4 separate regions of the Homo sapiens genome follow, and regions 2, 3 and 4 are each linked to region 1. Evidence: fine-mapped expression QTL. A gene starts in region 1. Each other region holds a variant in brackets. All regions are shown on one strand. Distances are between the middles of the regions. Region 1 holds the start of AOPEP (aminopeptidase O (putative)). Region 2 overlaps AOPEP (aminopeptidase O (putative)). Region 3 overlaps AOPEP (aminopeptidase O (putative)). Region 4 overlaps AOPEP (aminopeptidase O (putative)).

The links. PIP is the estimated chance that this variant, and not a neighbour inherited with it, causes the effect.
Region 2: its variant is the best candidate, but not a certain one, in a credible set for the expression of AOPEP in fibroblasts (GTEx, PIP 0.68).
Region 3: its variant is the best candidate, but not a certain one, in a credible set for the expression of AOPEP in whole blood (INTERVAL, PIP 0.82).
Region 4: its variant is the best candidate, but not a certain one, in a credible set for the expression of AOPEP in whole blood (INTERVAL, PIP 0.59).

What each region holds. Positions count from the first base shown.
Region 1 is chr9:94,724,532-94,728,698 of GRCh38, forward strand. AOPEP (aminopeptidase O (putative)) reads left to right here and starts at 2,168. Exons shown (of 17, transcript NM_001193329.3): 1 at 2,168-2,220. RefSeq lists enhancers at 1,780-1,949, 1,895-2,437, 1,960-2,439.
Region 2 is chr9:94,878,247-94,882,413 of GRCh38, forward strand. The region is part of intron 5 of AOPEP (aminopeptidase O (putative)); the gene reads left to right. Among named protein-coding and RNA genes, the nearest start is that of AOPEP-AS1, 65 kb to the right of the region's middle. The variant A/G (reference allele first, on the strand shown) is at 1,891.
Region 3 is chr9:94,752,380-94,756,546 of GRCh38, forward strand. The region is part of intron 1 of AOPEP (aminopeptidase O (putative)); the gene reads left to right. Among named protein-coding and RNA genes, the nearest start is that of AOPEP, 28 kb to the left of the region's middle. The variant T/C (reference allele first, on the strand shown) is at 2,555.
Region 4 is chr9:94,763,302-94,767,468 of GRCh38, forward strand. All of the region lies in intron 2 of AOPEP (aminopeptidase O (putative)), which reads left to right. Among named protein-coding and RNA genes, the nearest start is that of AOPEP, 39 kb to the left of the region's middle. The variant T/C (reference allele first, on the strand shown) is at 1,937.

The sequences.
Region 1 (4,167 bases):
ACCTCTGCCTCCTGGGTTCAAGCGATTCTCTTGCCTCAGCCTCCTGGGTAGCTGGGATTACAGGCACCCACCACCACGCCCGGCTAATTTTTGTATTTTTAGTAGAGACAGGGTTTCACCTTATTGGTCAGGCTGGTCTTGAACTCCTGACCTTGTGATCTGCCCGCCTCAGTCTCCCAAAGTTCTAGGATTACAGGCGTGAGTCACCATACCCGGCCCTCGATTATCTTTTAAGCAGGGGATCTGACATCACCGGGTCAGCATTCCTGGTTGGCAAAAATCAACAGAGCTGTGGTAGGGACCACGAGCTCCAGATCACCACAGTCTCTATCCCTGGGCTTCACTCCTTTGTGTTAACTGCCCGGCTGCTGTAGGCTTTGGGGTTTGCAGCCTCTGATGGAGCCTAAGAAAGCCAAGGGAAAAAAGAGCTCAGGAAAAGGGAAAGTGGAAGCCAGTGATAGAAACTGAGGAAAGATAGGTGACAGGAGAACCTAGAGGACTGACTTGGAAACAAGCAAAGAAATCAAGTTTGAAAGGAGGTGAAACAAACCTTGTTTTAGCTATATGATCCAGCTATTTGCTTAGGCCCCAAATTTAAGAATTATTTTTGACACTTTTCTTTTCCTTATCTCCCTTATCTAAACTCATCTCCAAGTCTGTCACATCTACCTCAGAATTATTCCTGAAATTTGTCCATTTCTATCATTTCTTACCTGCTCATTGCAAAAGCAACTCTTCTCTTTGCATCCTTTTAAATTGTTTCTCAAAAGTTTCATGTATACACAGCAGCTAGCAGGGTGATGTTATAAAACTAGATCCTGTCACTTACGTGTTGATAACTCTTCACTAGTTTCCCCTTACACTTCGAATAAACTCGTATTCCTCACAGGAACCCAGAGAGTCTGTGCATGATGGGGACTCTCCTTGCCTTCTTGATCTCATCCTCTGTTCTTCCCATGACCTACTTTCTCACTTTCTCCAAGGCACCACATTCTGCCCCTTCCCTATTGCTTGCTCACATGTAGATTCTTCTCTTGGCTGTTCTTTCCTTAGCTCTCCACAGAGTTGGCTGCTTCTCAGTTTACTGAACCTCTTCAGAGGGCACTTTCTTGACATCTCAAATCAAAAGGTCACCTGTCTTCCTTTAATTTCTCAGCAACTTATTTTCCTTCTACTTTTTTTTTTTTTTTTGAGATGGAGTCTCGCTGTCGCCCAGGTTGGAGTGCAGTGGCGCGATCTCGGCTCACTGCAGGCTCCGCCCCCCGGGGTTCCCGCCATTCTCCTGCCTCAGCCTCCCGAGTAGCTGGGACTACAGGCGCCCACCACCTCGCCCGGCTAATTTTTTGTATTTTTAGTAGAGACGGGGTTTCACCGTGTTAGCCAGGATGGTCTCGATCTCCTGACTTTGTGATCCGCCTGCCTCGGCCTCCCAAAGTGCTGGGATTACAAGCGTGAGCCACCGCGCCCGGCCTTTCCTTCTACATTTAATGTTTGCTTTCTCAACTAGAAAGTAATCCCCATGAGGGAAGGCACAGCGTCTGTCTTGTTCCTGGTTGTTTCCCCAGCTTTTGTTAAGGGTGCTTGCCTGGCACACAGGAGGACCTTAAATTGTGGTGGAATTAATATGTGAACAATAGTCACATGCAGCAGAGGTGAGACTAGGCTAAGGAATAAAATTGCACATCTGTATTTCAGTAACTTTTTTTAAATTTTATTTGAAACAGGGTCTTGCTCTGTGGCTCAGGGTGGAGTGTAGTGGCACGTTCATAGCTCATTGCAGCCTCGAACTCCTGGACCTAAGCAATCCTCCTGCCTCAGCCTCCATAGTAGCTGGACCACAGGTGCACGCCACCACACTCGGCTAATTTTTTAATTTTTTTGTAGAGACGGGGCCTCCCCAGGTTGCCCAGGCTGGTGATTTTTTTCTTAAGCTTCATAAAGATTTTGCAATTAGGAATACTAGGGTACCAGGGCAACTCTACAAGCCCTAGCCAGCCAAGCTGCTCGCGCCCTCCTATGACCGCGGCAGCTCCGCGCCTGCGCAGATCTCCCCCGGGCGGTCTCGCCCTCTCATCCTAAGGGGGCGGGCCTAGCGGAAGGCGGGTCAGGCAGAATGCGGCCCCGGGCGCGTGTGGATGACGTCACCCGGCGCGTGCCGGGGTAGCCCGTAGTAACCCCGAGTCTGCGGAAGTGGTGACCCGTGGGACGCGGCTGAGACAGGTAACCTGTTCGCTCCCTGTTGGGTCCCTGCCTTCCTCTCCTCCGGCGTCGGGATGGCGGCGGGGACAGCATCATTCCGTTCTGAAGGCGACGGGGAACCCTCCCTTACCCTCACTTTTGCTCGACCAGCGAGGACCCGCATCCCCTCCTCAGTTCTCCCAGACTCCTGGGGCTGAAACCCATCCTGGGGACTGGGCGGAGCGGTCACATCTTACCACCTCAGCTGTAGAGGTGGCCACGGGCTCTGGCTGTCTTCTCCCCGGCGGCACAGACCTTTCTCAGCCTCTGGGTGCCTCCTCCTTCGTCTCTTGCCTCCAGGCCCTCGGTCACCTGCCGGTCTCGGCTTCTAGCCCCACAGGGCTCATCTCCAGTCTTAAGTAGGCAGAACAGTTTCGATTCGATTCATTTCCACTTGCAGTGAAACCCATCCGCCTCTTCTTCCCCCGGAGGATCTTTACTGAGAGCACCACATTTTGAGTTTTGGGGTCCCTATAGAACATTCATACTGTTAGTCTGGAGTTTTGTTCATGAACGCATGCATGGGCGGGGAGGGGGTGGCACAGTAATGTGATTATGATTATCTATTGTGATAATAAAATATCCACTTAGGATCCAATCCACTGTTGAGATGCATGGAACAGTTAATAGCATTGCATAAAATGCCCCTTGTACCTGATTTCTTTTTGGTTTTCGTGCAATGATGACAATTACCCTTGCAAAGGTAGCCCTCAAAATAAGTAACATAACCCGCTAGGGATGTTTAGATCGCAAAAAAACAACAATAAGGTTCATATGGTTGATAAAGAAATAATATGGGTTATTACAAAACCAGACAGAATAGATGCTGAGTATATGGGACGAGAAGCAGAATTCTGAAATCCTTGATCTCATTGATTGTTTGGTTTTGTATTTTTAAAATACTTTTAGTCTGTTCCATTTTTGAATAGTGTATATTGTGCTTCGTATAAGTCTGGGAAGCCTTCCAATGACTTGCTAATTGGGAAGATTAGATTCTTCCAATATTTGGGGGACAAAGTAGAATAAGGTTAGGGTATAATAATAGTTGCTTACTGTTGGCCCATCTGCTTTATCCCAGGTACTGTGTTCAACACTTTGCATATGTTTTCTCCTTACTTCATACAACCACCTCGTGAGTTAGGAATTATTACCCCCAATTTATAGAGAAGGAAATTGAGTTTCGGTTATATGAAATTGACTTGCTAAAAATTCACAGTTAACTAAATGGCAAAATCAAGATTTAAATTCAGGTCTGAATATAACTTCAAAGCCTGCACTTTTCTTAAAGGACTCTACTAATGCTCAAATTTTAGGCTTTTTACAATAGTTGCACACAATTTTATGAGTTTGTTCACCTACACAAATGATTTAACACTTTTTAATATCTTTAATACTGTGTTAAGTTCCCATATTCCTGGAGTTAAAACACCTGGAAAGCTTAATTTGTGATCCTTCCTGCGTGCGCGCATGCACACACACACACACACACACACACACACACACCATCCTTATTTTTAAGAATGAGATAAATGGCAAACAAGATTGTGCAGTAAAACCCTGCTGTTTGGAGTCCTCAGGGAATGGGTAATTTTACAGTTGAGAGCTTAATACTTCTTTAGAAATGAAAATTTTATTGACTCTTTGAGATGGAAATTTTAAAAATGTACTACACAATTTCTTGCCTTCTTAAACACTCAGGATGCCGAGTAGATTTTTGACCTCACTGTGCCCGGTCGAGGACAGTTCTTCTAAGGAATTTGGCTGTGAGGAGATAAAGAAGAGTTAGAGGGAGATGTGGACTTAAGGGAGGGTTTTGTTCATTTGTGGGTTTTTCCTGTAAGAAGAGACTGGAACATTCACATTTGTGAGGTGGAAAGGGCTTGGAAACAGGAAGATGCTGAGGTCAAGGATTTAGAGGGCTGGATGATT
Region 2 (4,167 bases), 150 kb after region 1:
GCATCTAGGATGCTGTCCACTTTCGGGGAGAAGTATTCCTGGTCAGCTTTACCTTAAAGTCTCCAACAGGTGTTCTAAGAGTCTGAAGGGGCCCTTTTGTGTTGTGAGATGTGGACCCAAGGTTACAGGTGTGGGTGTGAGAAGAACTTGGTGTGGTCCTTTCCAACAGGGTTCAAGGGCAGTCTTCCTCTGATGTTATTTCCCGAAGACCCAATTTCCAGGCTCTAGACCATGAAGGATTTGATTGTACTTAGTCAGTGGATCACAAAAAGCTTCCTGTACCTGGTAAAAATACACTTTGGCATAATGCATTAAAACCTTGCGTTATTTAGTCATATCAGAGTTTAGGAGAGTGGAACATCCATTAGGTTCTACTATTAGGGGCATACGTTTCCAGTGACTATTTCATAAGGGGCCAACTTATGTTTTCCAGTGGGAGTGGATCTGATTGCCATTTAATGCCAACAGTAGTACCTTTGGCCAAGACAACCCAATTGGCTCAGCTAACTTTGCCAATTTCAGTTTTAAGATACCATTTGTTCTTTCAGCCTTTCTGTAACTGCCCAGTGGGTTCCCCTTGCCCACTGCCTAGACAGAGCTGATTTATCAAGACAGGGGAATTGCAATAGAGAAAGAGTAATTCACGCAGAGCTGGCTTTGTGGGAGACCGGAGTTTTATTATTACTCAAATCAGTTTCCTCAGCATTCGAGGATCAGAGTTTTTAAGGGTAATTGGGTGGGTGGAAGAACTCAGCTGTCTTCTTGTGCTGAGTCAGTTCCTGGGTGGGGACCACAAGATCAGATGAGCCAGTTTATCAATCTGGGTGGTGACAGCTGATCCAGGGTCTGCAAAATATCTCAAGCACTGATCTTAGGAGCAGTTTAGGGAGGGTTGGAATCTTGTAGCCTCCAGCTGTATGACTCCTAAACTACAATTTCTAATCTTCAGGCTAATTTATTAGTCCTAAAAAGGCCGTCTAGTACCCAGGCAAGAAGGAGGTTTGTTTTGGGAAAGGGTTGTTAGCATCTTTGTTTTAAACTATAAACTAAGTAATTCCCAAAGTTAGTTCAGCATATGTGCAGGAATGAACAAGGACAGCTTGGAGGTTAGAAACAAGATGGAGTTGGTTAGCTCAGATCTCTTTCACTGTCTCAGTTATAATTTTGCAAGTGTGGTTTCATTTCCAGAAGACTGAGGGTGATAAAGGCAATGGTAGTATCACTGCATCCACAACACCTTATTTAACTGCTTTTAACTTACCCAGTAAAATGAGTTTCCCTATCTATAGCTGGAGATTTCTCCAGGAATACCCCATAAAGGAAAAACATTTTCTAATAATTTCTTAGCTGCTGGCACAGCACCAGCTTTTCTACAAAGAAAGACTCGATTTGACCAGAAAACATACAAACTATTACAAAAACTGATACCTCAGCAAGGGCGATAACTGAATAAAGTCCATTTGTAAATGTTCAAATGGTCCATCAGATGGTGGAAATATACTATCTGAAGTTTTTATTGTTTTCCTCGGATTATGAGTTTGGTAAATCAAACATTGGTTGTAACCCATTTTAGCAGTTTTGGAACATATACCTCACCAATTTTTTTTATAATTTGGATCATTTTGTGTGTTCCATGATGAGTTGTGGAGTGCAGGCCTTTTAACAACGGAAGCTTTAAAGACTCAGGAAGGACCAAGTGGTTGTCAGGCCCTTTGTGAATCCACGCTTAACATTGAATTTACATTTTTTTAGATACCAACTTTGTTTTTCCAAATTAAATGCATTGCACTGTTTATTAAATAGATCACCGTATGGGAGTTGATTTGGATCAGTCTTATGGAGTTCATTCAGATTGCATATTCTCACAGTGTCAGCACTAGCTGATTTAAC[A/G]TGCACATCGGCTAGGGCATTCCTTTGATATTCAGATTCAGTTTTACAGGTATCATCTTCAATCTTAATCATAACGATCTGTGATGATAACAGTGTTAACAGGATAGCTGAAAGGAGTTCATCTAACTGGAGTCCCAATAGAAGTGAGAAACCCCTATTGTTTATTTTTTAATAATGTAATTTTTATTATGCATATTTGTCTTTTTTTTTCTTTTTCTTTTTCTTTTTTTCTTTTCTTTTTTTTTTTTTAGACAGGGTCTCTCTCTGTTGCCCAGGCTGGAGTGCCATGGCGTGACCATGGCTCACTGCAGCGTCGACCTCCCAGGCTCAACCCATCCTCCCACCTCAGCCCCCAGAGTAGCTGGGACTACAGGCGCAAGTCACCATGCCAAGATAATTTGTAGAGAAGGGGTTTTGCCATGTTGCCCAGGCTGGTTTTGAACTTCTGGGCTCAAGCAGTCTGCCTGCCTTGGCATCCCAAAGTGTTGGGATTACAGGCATGAGCCATCGCACCTGGTCCCATTGTTTCCATAATGTGCCAAAATTGTGTACTACTCTAAAAGCATATCTGCTATCTTTTTAAATATTTACTGACGTGTCCTTAACTATATGACAAGCTTGGGTGGGAGCAAAAAGCTCTGCCAGCTGAGCGGACTTAAATTGAGGAAGAGTTCCCTTCTCTATTAACTCATTTTGGGCAGTAACAACATACCCTGCCTGATATTTTCCTTCTGAGACTTTGGCATAGGACCCACGAACAAAAAGTATCAACTCAGGATTATCCAATGGAGCATCTCATAAATCAACACAAGGGGCTACTAGTTTGGATACTACACCTACACAATTGTGATCTTTACCACAGTCAGTCAGAGGTAATGGAGTAGCAGGGTTAAGTAGGTTTTAGATGGAGTAGCATTTTAGATGGAGGTCAGAAGGAGGCAGGAGAAAATTTCATAAGATCATAAGATGTTAGTTTTCTTGCTGAAAAATGCTGAGCTTGGTTGGAATTTAATAGACTTTCCACAGCATGTGGAATTTGCAAATTAAGTTCATTCCCTAAAACCAGCTCAGATGAAACTTGTAGCAACTTGGTGGCTGCTGCTGCTTCTATTTTTTTTTTTTTTTTAAGACACAGGATCTGTCTTAGGCTTCCTTTAGTGGTGAAACAGTGTGGCCTAATGGGAGGAGGCTTATTGGTAGACTAACAGAGAAGCAGACAACTCTTTTCCAGTGTCCTGCTTATTTGCAAGGAAGGCAGACATCTCGGGGAAAAGAATTTCTTGTTCTAGGATCTATCTCTTGGTTGTGATTTAAAATAAAAAAGAAGGTTCCTTTGGTCTCAGCCCCTGTAACTGTTGTAATTGGTGAGACATAAGCTTGGTAGTCTTTTGGGTTTTTTCTTGCTCCAGAGTCCTCTCAAAATGTTCAGCTAAGGCCACCAATTCAGTCATGTCTGTAACTTCCCATCCAGGTTTATGTTTTTTTAATTAAACTGCTAAGTTTGGGACAGAGTCCATTTATAAATAGAGTAGTTGATGCAGTTCCTGCAGGAAATATTCCTTGCTGTTATTTTGAGCCCCAAATGCTTCACAAGCAGTGTTTCTAAGTGAGTTCTGTCGTCCGAAACTTCTTTTGTCTGTATGGTGGACCAGTCAATTTTTTTGTGTGGAAAAATCTTAGGAATTGAATCTAAAATGATTTTGGCAATGTTTCTAGCTTATTTCAGCCATTCCTGTGAGGGGGTTTTGGAGGGGTCTTTAATACCCTCCTCAGGTTGGCTCCATTCTGCAGCTGTCACTCATTTTCAAGCTTCCACAGGTCCCAGTATCATGTGAATAAACTGGTAAAGGTCAGGGAGTCCTGGATTGTAAGCTCTTATGAGTAAATTTTTGAGGACTTCCCCTTGGGCTAGGGAGTCCTTTACTATGGCTCTAAGCTCAGCTTTAGAACATGGAGTGAAGGTGGTTATGGCGGGAAGGCCTGGCTGATCACAAGCTCTTACTTTGTAAGACATCTGTCCAACTTCTCTTTTTTCGTCATCTTTAAAGGGTGAAAGGGTAATTTGACTAGAAGATTAGTGGAGCAAATTATTTAGGTAGAGATGGGTAAAGAGAGGAAACAGGGTTATTTCAGAGTACAGTCCTCTTTCGTCATGTTCTTAGTCTGTTGTTTAAAATGTTTGCTTGCTTTTTGCAAAGAATCATTTAAGGAGGCAATTTTTAATTTGTTTAGCCTTTTAGATGCCTTGCATACCAATTAAAGAACACATCTCATTGT
Region 3 (4,167 bases), 28 kb after region 1:
CACACACCCCACATGCATGTACCAGGGAGAAAGAACACATACGTATCAGTAAATGCATGCTAATAACAAAATTCTTTCTTATCAGCAAAAAGATATGCCAGGTTACAGTGGAATCTTGTATTCAAAGTGTTAATTAAAAATAACTATCAACAAAAGTTCTACACTTAGTTAAGTGGTCATTCAGTAGAGAGGATGTAATACAGACATTTTCAAACATACAACTGTTAAAAGAGTTTGTTACCCATGGACTCCTCCTAAAATAATTACTAAAGATAAACTTAAGTAAAAAGGAAATTGTGGCAGATTGTATTTTCCAAAAATGGCCATAACAATATCTACCATCTTCCATGCTTTTCTACAGTATACCTTGCTACTCCCCCATCAAAAGATGGAGTCTAATCCCCTCTCCTTGAATCTGGATTGGCCTTATGAGTTTGCACCTGAAAGCAATAGACTATGGTAGCAATAATAACCATGTTGACTTTGAGGCTCGGTCAGAAAAGGCCATGCAGTTTTCAACTGGTACTTTGAGATGCTCGTGCTGGGGGCTGCCAGCTACCATAGAAGATGTACAGCCATTCCAAAAGCTCAGTGTTAAATAAGCTTTATTTAAATAAACTTATTTAAGTAAGTTTAAATAAGCGGCCTTTCTGGGCATCAGACCCTCCAGACAAGTCCATCCTCCAACTGAGTACCATTGAGTAACATAGACAGATTCATAAGATGTAGAAGAGTGGCCCAGCTGACTGTTACCCACATTCATGACCTATAGAATATAATAAAATGGTTGCTGTTTGAAGCTACAAAGTTAATTTGTCATGCAACAAGTAGAATAAAATTGGACCCAGAAGGAAGGAGTGGAATGTATAAATTATCAGGAGTAAGGAAGCTGGTGAATATATTTGTAAATACAAATAAATATTGACTTTAAAAAAGTTGGATGGAGTTTTAACAAACAATGTGATACTAAAATAATAGCAACAATAATATGGAAGCTGTTATGGAGTAAGGAAGAGGAAGACTGGTTATAAAACTTTCTAAGGTCCTTATATTGTTTGGAAGGTTATTCGAGATTGACTTTAGGCATATTAAAGGCATTGATTGTGTAAGTTATGAAACAGTGGAGGGGAAAACAGGAATGTAGAAAAATTCAATAAAAAGCAGAAAAATAAAGCTAAGAAGCAAAGAAAATCATGGGCGATAGAAAACATAAAATATGTTGATTGAGATGGTGCTGTTACAACTGTAATTGTGATAAATGTAAAGAAATTCATTTCAGTCATTAAAAATGATAATTATATTTTTTAAATAGCCAGCCAAATGTTGTTTTAAAAAGACAGCCAAGGCAAAAAGAGTCCAGAGCAGTTAAAAATGAAGGGATTGAAAAGATGTGCCGGGAAAAAGCAAACCAAAAGAAAGTAGGTATGACAGTATTAACATCAGGCAAAACGGAATTTCTAGACATCTCGTGTTTTCTTCTCAGGATACACCTGTGCCTCTTTTTATGCCACATCTTTTTACTTGCATGTGTGCAGCTAGGAGATGTGCGTAAGGAGGCTCATTTCAGCATTGTTTGCAATCAAGAAAATTTTCAAATAACTATCAGTAGGGGAACGTATGGATACATTATAGAATATTCCTGTGGGGGCATTAAACAGCAGTTAAAAGAGACAGATTTATATACATCAACATGTCTATATTTCAAAACCATTGAGTGAAAGAAGTTGCAGAGTAATATGTCAGTGTGACATTTATAAACACAAAACAGTATATTTGAACTTCTAAGTTTCCTTCTAATTCTGAAATTATTGAATTTCACAGTAGTAAGCTATGTTCCTGTGACTATATGCATTTGAGTGTGTGAAGAATTGTGCCCAGAAACAGTGTATTTCAGCAAATACACTGACTGTTATTAAGAGCAATTGGCATATCCTAAATAATGGACACACCTGGAATAGCAGAAAGCTGTCATTCTCTGATCAAGTAATCGGTGGAATTAAATAGTAACTACTCAACAGTGTGCTCTATGCTATAGAATGAGCATATGTGCAAAAATAATTTCTCCTTTCCCCCAGTTGCTTACAAGTAAAAAGATGAGGCATAAAAAGAGGCACAGGTGTATCCTGAGAAGAAAAAATGAGATGTCTGGAGGGAGATGTTAGTTAAGCAATAACTTAGCACTAGACTATAGAGTACAGGCAAGCTAGAATCCCTGTTGTATAAGTAACTAGACATTGAAATCACAAATACCTTTGGATGGCAATTCCACAAATATTTATTGAGAACCTGCTGTGTTGAGGATACTCCACTTAACCTGGTCATGAACACAAAAATGATTCAGGAGTTACAGGGAATTTTTAGAGCATTGGAGGATGGAAGTAACTATAAAATGAGCCAGGATAAGTTAGAATCGTGAGGATACACGTTGCTTTGTAGCTTGAAAGGAGAATGAAATTGTTTTCGTTGGGGTGATTGGGGATGGCGTTACAGAGGTTATATCCCACATTTGTAAATGGGTGCATTCCACTTTGGATGGCTGAGAATGGCAGAGCAG[T/C]TTCTTCTTTGTGCCATAGCTCTGTTTAGTATGTGATCCTCTTCCCCCTTAAGAAAAATATTACTGTACGCTAATCCTTTCAAAGCCTTTAATGGTGCTGCTGAGACAATCATTTAAGCATTTAAAATACATACCACATAGCACACTTATTTTTTCTTTTTTTTTTAGCACACTTATTTTAGACACAGCAATGGTTAGCCACTGGAAAACTAACCACTGGTTTTTATAAGGGGGGACCTTTGTATGTTATGGCTTATGACAGAGAATGGAAAAATGCTTCAGTGAGACAGGCTGGCATTTTGAATTGGAGCACAGTAATAGCCAAAAGTGCTGAAGTCAACGGACTGCTTAGAAATATGGTTTCCATTTGCTGAGAGAGGCCTTGCAAGGTGGCCACATACATGCATTTGCAACCACAGGCAGTTCAGTTTTTCCCTAAATGTGGGGCTGTGACCCTGATTGATGTCAGTGAGCGTTACGTACTTGCAGAGAGAAAGATGATTTAGGTCATCCATGAATCTAAGACAAGTAAGACATAGACAAATAAGCAACAACTTAATAGACTTATATATAATTTAGGTTGGAAATCATGCAGAAGTGACAGTGCTCTTCAGAATCTTCTGGGGCTGGCTTAAAAGTTCTCCTTTGCCCCCCAAAGCTATTACAATAAGAATTGGTTACTAGTCTGCATAACTTGAAGAAGATAAAGAAGGTCAAAGGAAGATGTGGAAAAGAGACTTAGAGGTGACATTTGATTTATGACTTAGACAATATGAAGGAGATGGCCATGAGACCTGGGAGATGAGAATTCCAAGGAAAAGCATCAGCAAGTGGGAAATGTTCTGTTAGTGGCAAACAAAAAGAAATGGGTGACCTTGAGCAAATTACTTTGCCTCTCTGGGACCCACTGTCTTCATTTGTAAAATTAGAGAGTTGGATTCAGTGAGCCCTAAGGAATTTTTCAGCTCCAAAGTTCAATAAAATAAAGATGACTTAAAGTAGGCCAAATGAAGTTGTTGATTGTTTTTAAAGATGGCAACCCTAGGCCAGGCAGGGTGGCTCACGCCTGTGATCCCAGCACTTTGGGAGGCCGAGGCAGGCAGATCACGAGGTCAGGAGATCAAGACCATCCTGGCTAACATGGTGAAACCCTGTCTCTACCAAAAATACAAAAAAATTAGCCGGGTGTGGTGGCGGGCACCTGTAGTCCCAGCTACTTGGGAGGCTGAGGCAGGAGAATGGCGTGAACCAGGGAGGCGGAGCTTACAGTGAGCTGAGATTGTGCCACTGGGTGACAGAGCAAGACTCTGTCTCAAAAAAAAAAAAAAAGATGGCAACCCTAAGGTTGGCTTAGGTGTGATGGCTCACACCTGTAATCCCAGCACTTTGGGAGGCTGAGGTGGGCAGATCGCCTGAGCTGAAGAGTTCAAGACCAGCCTGGGCAACATGGCAAGACCTCGTCTCTACAAAAATTTAAAAAGTTAGATGAGTGTGGTGGCATGCACCTATGGTCCCAGCTACTTGGGAGGCTGAGGAAGGAGGATCGCTTGAGCCCGCAACCCTAGGGATGTTTGAATGTTCAGAATAGGGTGTAATCATTGAAGGGGAGAAAA
Region 4 (4,167 bases), 39 kb after region 1:
CAAATATAAGAAAATCTGTAAATTGGTACCTTTTCTTTTAAGTTCCATTAGTGGCTTCCCCATTTCCCACCTGTACTGTATCCCAGCTGAGAATAAAACTTGTATCAAAATGAAATAGCTTAATATTGATATGGATGGTTGCATATGGAAATAATTACAGATATGTGTGTTTCCAAGGGTTAGTGTGTGTGTGTGTGTTTGTGTATACACACACTGTATCTTGGCTTGTCAGCTGAGAGGGTCTTAGAAGTAAGCACACCTAGCACCCAGATCTTAGTTTCTGATACCATTTTCCAATGAAGAGAACTAGGACTTCTTGGAGAAATGTCCAGAACAGGGGCAGGAAATATACAAGATGAGTCTGGAGCATCTTGTAATGTCAGAAAGTAAGGAAGCCCTCAAACAGCAGGAACAACAACCCACAGCGATGGGGGTATGCCAGAGGGACAAGGGGCCGTCCGAAAGAGCTCCTCATGCCCCAAGCCAAGCAACAAAACATATCAAGTAGTTTCGAATGACATCCAAAAGTATGAAATAGCCATTAGTCCAGCTGATGTGAATAAACGATTGAATAAATAAACAAATGAGGAAGAATAGACAAATCCATGGTGCAAAACAATTCCAAGTTAGTTGTGGACATGTTCTGTCCTCAAGGAGGTGGGGCATAACTCCTCACTCCTTAAGTGTGGACTATACAGTCAGTGACTCCCTGCCGAAGAGAACAGAATGGAAAGGGAGAAAGAAGTAACTTTACACTAGAGAAATCTGACAATACTACCTCAGCAAGATGATCAAGGTCAATATCAATAGTGATAATTTATGGGGATAGTTTATTCTCTGGTATGATATGATGAAAATGGCATCTTTGTGGTCTTCCTCGCAAAAGCTCTTAACTCCAATCTAATCATGAGAAAAGCATCAGATACATCCCAGTCAAGGGACATTAAACACAATACCTGATCAGCACTTCTGAAAACGAATAAGGTCAGCGTAAAGTCTAAGAAACTGCCACAGTCAAGAGGAGCCTGAGGAGACATGATGATTAAAAGCAATGTGGTGTCCTGGCCGGGTGCAGTGGCTCACACCTGTAATCCTAGCACTTTGGGAGGCCGAGGTGGGCAGATCACTTGAGGCCAGGAGTTCGAGACCAGCCTGGCCAACATGGCGAAACCCCATCTTTACTAAAAATACAAAAAGTTAGCTGGGCATGGTGGCAGGCACCTGTAGTCCCAGCCACTTGGGAGGCTGAGGTGGGAGGATCACTTGAGCCCAGAAGGTCAAGGCTGCAGTCAGTTGTCTTTGTGCTACTGCACTCCAGCCTGGGTGATAGAGCGTGACTGTGTCTCAAAAATAAAATAAAATAAATAAAATAAAAGTAATGTAGTATCCTGAAACAGAAAAAAGACATTGAGGAAAAACTAAAGAAAGCTGAATGAAGTGTGTAAATGTATCAGTATTGGTTCACTCCTTGTGACAAGCATACTAATATAAGATGCCAGTAATAGGGAAAGCTGAGTATGGAGTATATGGAAACTCTGTATATTATCTTTGTGATTTTTATTTTTAGTTTTTATTTTATTATTATTTTATAAGACAGGGTCTCACTCTGTCACCCAGGGTGGAGAGCAGTGGCATGAACTTGGCTCACCAAGTTCTTTCTACCCTGAAATCTCTTTTGTAAGAGCTGTTTTCTCACTTTACCATGTGGCAGGGTTCTCTGGAGAAGAAAATATATTTGTAGTCTCAATCTCCTTGGCTGAAACGATCCTTCCACCTCAGCCTTCCAAGTAGCTGGGACTACAGGTGTGCAGCACCACGCCCAGCTAATTTTTGTATTTTTTTGTAGAGACAGGGTTTTGCTATGTTGCCCAGGCTGGTCTCGAACTCCTGGGCCCAAGCATTCCTCCCACCTCAGCCTCCCAAAGTGCTGGGATTA[T/C]AGGCATGAGCCACTGACTGCGCCCAGCCTTATCTTTTCAATTTTTAAAATCTAAAACTGTTTTAATATAAAAAAATATATGCCAGATGTGGTGGCTCATGCCTATAATTCTAGCACTTTGGAAGACAGAGGCAGGAGGATAGCTTGAGTTGAGGAGTTCAAGACCAGCCTGGGCAACATGGTGAAACCCCTTCTCTACAAAAATAATAATAATAATAATAATAATAATAATAATAATAATAAGTCACAGCTACTTGGGAGGCTGAGGTGGGAGTATTACTTGAGCCCAGGGAGGTCGAGGCTGCAGTGGGTCATGTTTGTGCCACTGCACTCCAGCCTGGGCGACAGAGTGAGACCCCGTCTTGAAAAAAAATTATTAAAAAGATAACTTCAAATTTGGAGATTTCTACCCTGAAATCTCTTTTGTAAGAGCTGTTTTCCCACTTTACCATGTGGCAGGGTTCTCTGGAGAAGAAAACATATTTGAAGCTGTAAAGGAGTATTTATTATGAATGATTACCAATAATTTTATCATTATTATTCTACTTCTAATATGAAATATCTGGAAATAGAAAACTCAATTTTCCTACCTTAGTTTAGCCATTTGGGAGTTGTGCCAGTTGTTGAACCTAAATGCTTCTTGCCTGTATCATTCAGATACTGGATTGTAGGTGACATTTAAAATGACTGATGGAAGGAATACATATATAACAATCAGATACAATGTGCTTCTTGGAAAAGATGTTTGCTTTTCTGTGGTACGCGGGTCTGTGTGCCCTTTAAAAATATTTTGATGAGAACAAAGACAGGGTCAAGAGTTGTGTAAAGGTGTTCTTGCCAAGCTTCAAGAAAGGAATGGGACTTAATATGTTTTTAATTCTAGATCTTTGGTATACGTAAGAAATAAACTTTTAAAATGGAAACCTTTATTCAAAGTTGATGTGTTTTCTTCATTTTCCTTGTATTTTTAACATTTTTTCTATTCCCCTGAAGAAAACGTTATTTAAAACTGAAGCATTGGCCCGGTGCAGCGGCTCACGCGTGTAATCCCAGCACTTTGGGAGGCCGAGGCGGGTGAATCACAAGGTCAGGAGATCGAGACCATCCTGGCTGATGAGGTGAAACCCCGTCTCTACTAAAATACAAAAAATTAGCCGGGCGTGGTGGCGGGCGCCCGTTGTCCCAGCTACTTGGGAGGCTGAGGCAGGGGAATGGCGTGAACCCAGGAGGCGGAGCTTGCAGTGAGCTGAGATCGCGCCACTGCACTCCAGCCTGGGCGACAGAGCGAGACTCCATCTCAAAACAAAACAAAACAAACTGAAGCATTCTCTTTGATAACCCATTCTCTTTTTCGTTAGAATCATTATAATAGTTGTGGAAGCAGTCAAGTGGTTTAGGAGGTCTGAGCTTAAGCTGATGACATCACTGAATTTGAATTGAATGGAGGAAAATTCGGTTATGTATAGGAAATTTATTAGAAAAACTATAGCTATTTGGATTTTTGTTAAAGATAAGAGAGCTAACTGGGAAAATACATTATAAGATAAAGTAATATTAACATTTAAACTTTTGTAAAACATTGTGATTTTTTTGTTTGTTTGTTTTAGACAAGACTGGGATGAAGTTAGCAAAATCCTAAGGAGAACTACTTTTTTCTGTAATATTTCTTGCTCAGCTATTGGGCCAGGGAAGATGTAGACTTTGGGAGTATTTTTAGTTTGGAGTATCAAAACCAGATGTTAAAACATGTTCTTCCTCCCCCCTCCCCCCACTGAATTAATTTCATTATTTTATATCTCACTCTAAAGGAAAGTTTTAAAATTAAAAGAATGAGCAGAAGATGTTTTGGGAGAGATTTCAGGTCTAAGAGGAACATTTCCACAATTAGCACCTTTTTTTCCCCTTACTTTCTTCAAGAAACCAATGCAAAATTTATGAGAACTAAAGTGGAATACACATTAATTCTATGATATTGTATGACTGCAGAGTCGGAATCATGAGTGAAAATGCTTGGAAGGGTCGTGTTTTAGCTTCTTTCTCTCTTTGCTGCCCAGGCTGTGCATATGTCTATTTCCCAGAATCCCAGTTGAGTCACCATGGAAGAAAATACAAGGATGGACTGTATCAGTCTCAACAAGTAACCAACATAACCAACCGAATGAGAAATAAGTAACAAAGCATCTACAGAAAATAACAAATCGCAGTGCCCCGTATCACCAAGAGCATAGTGT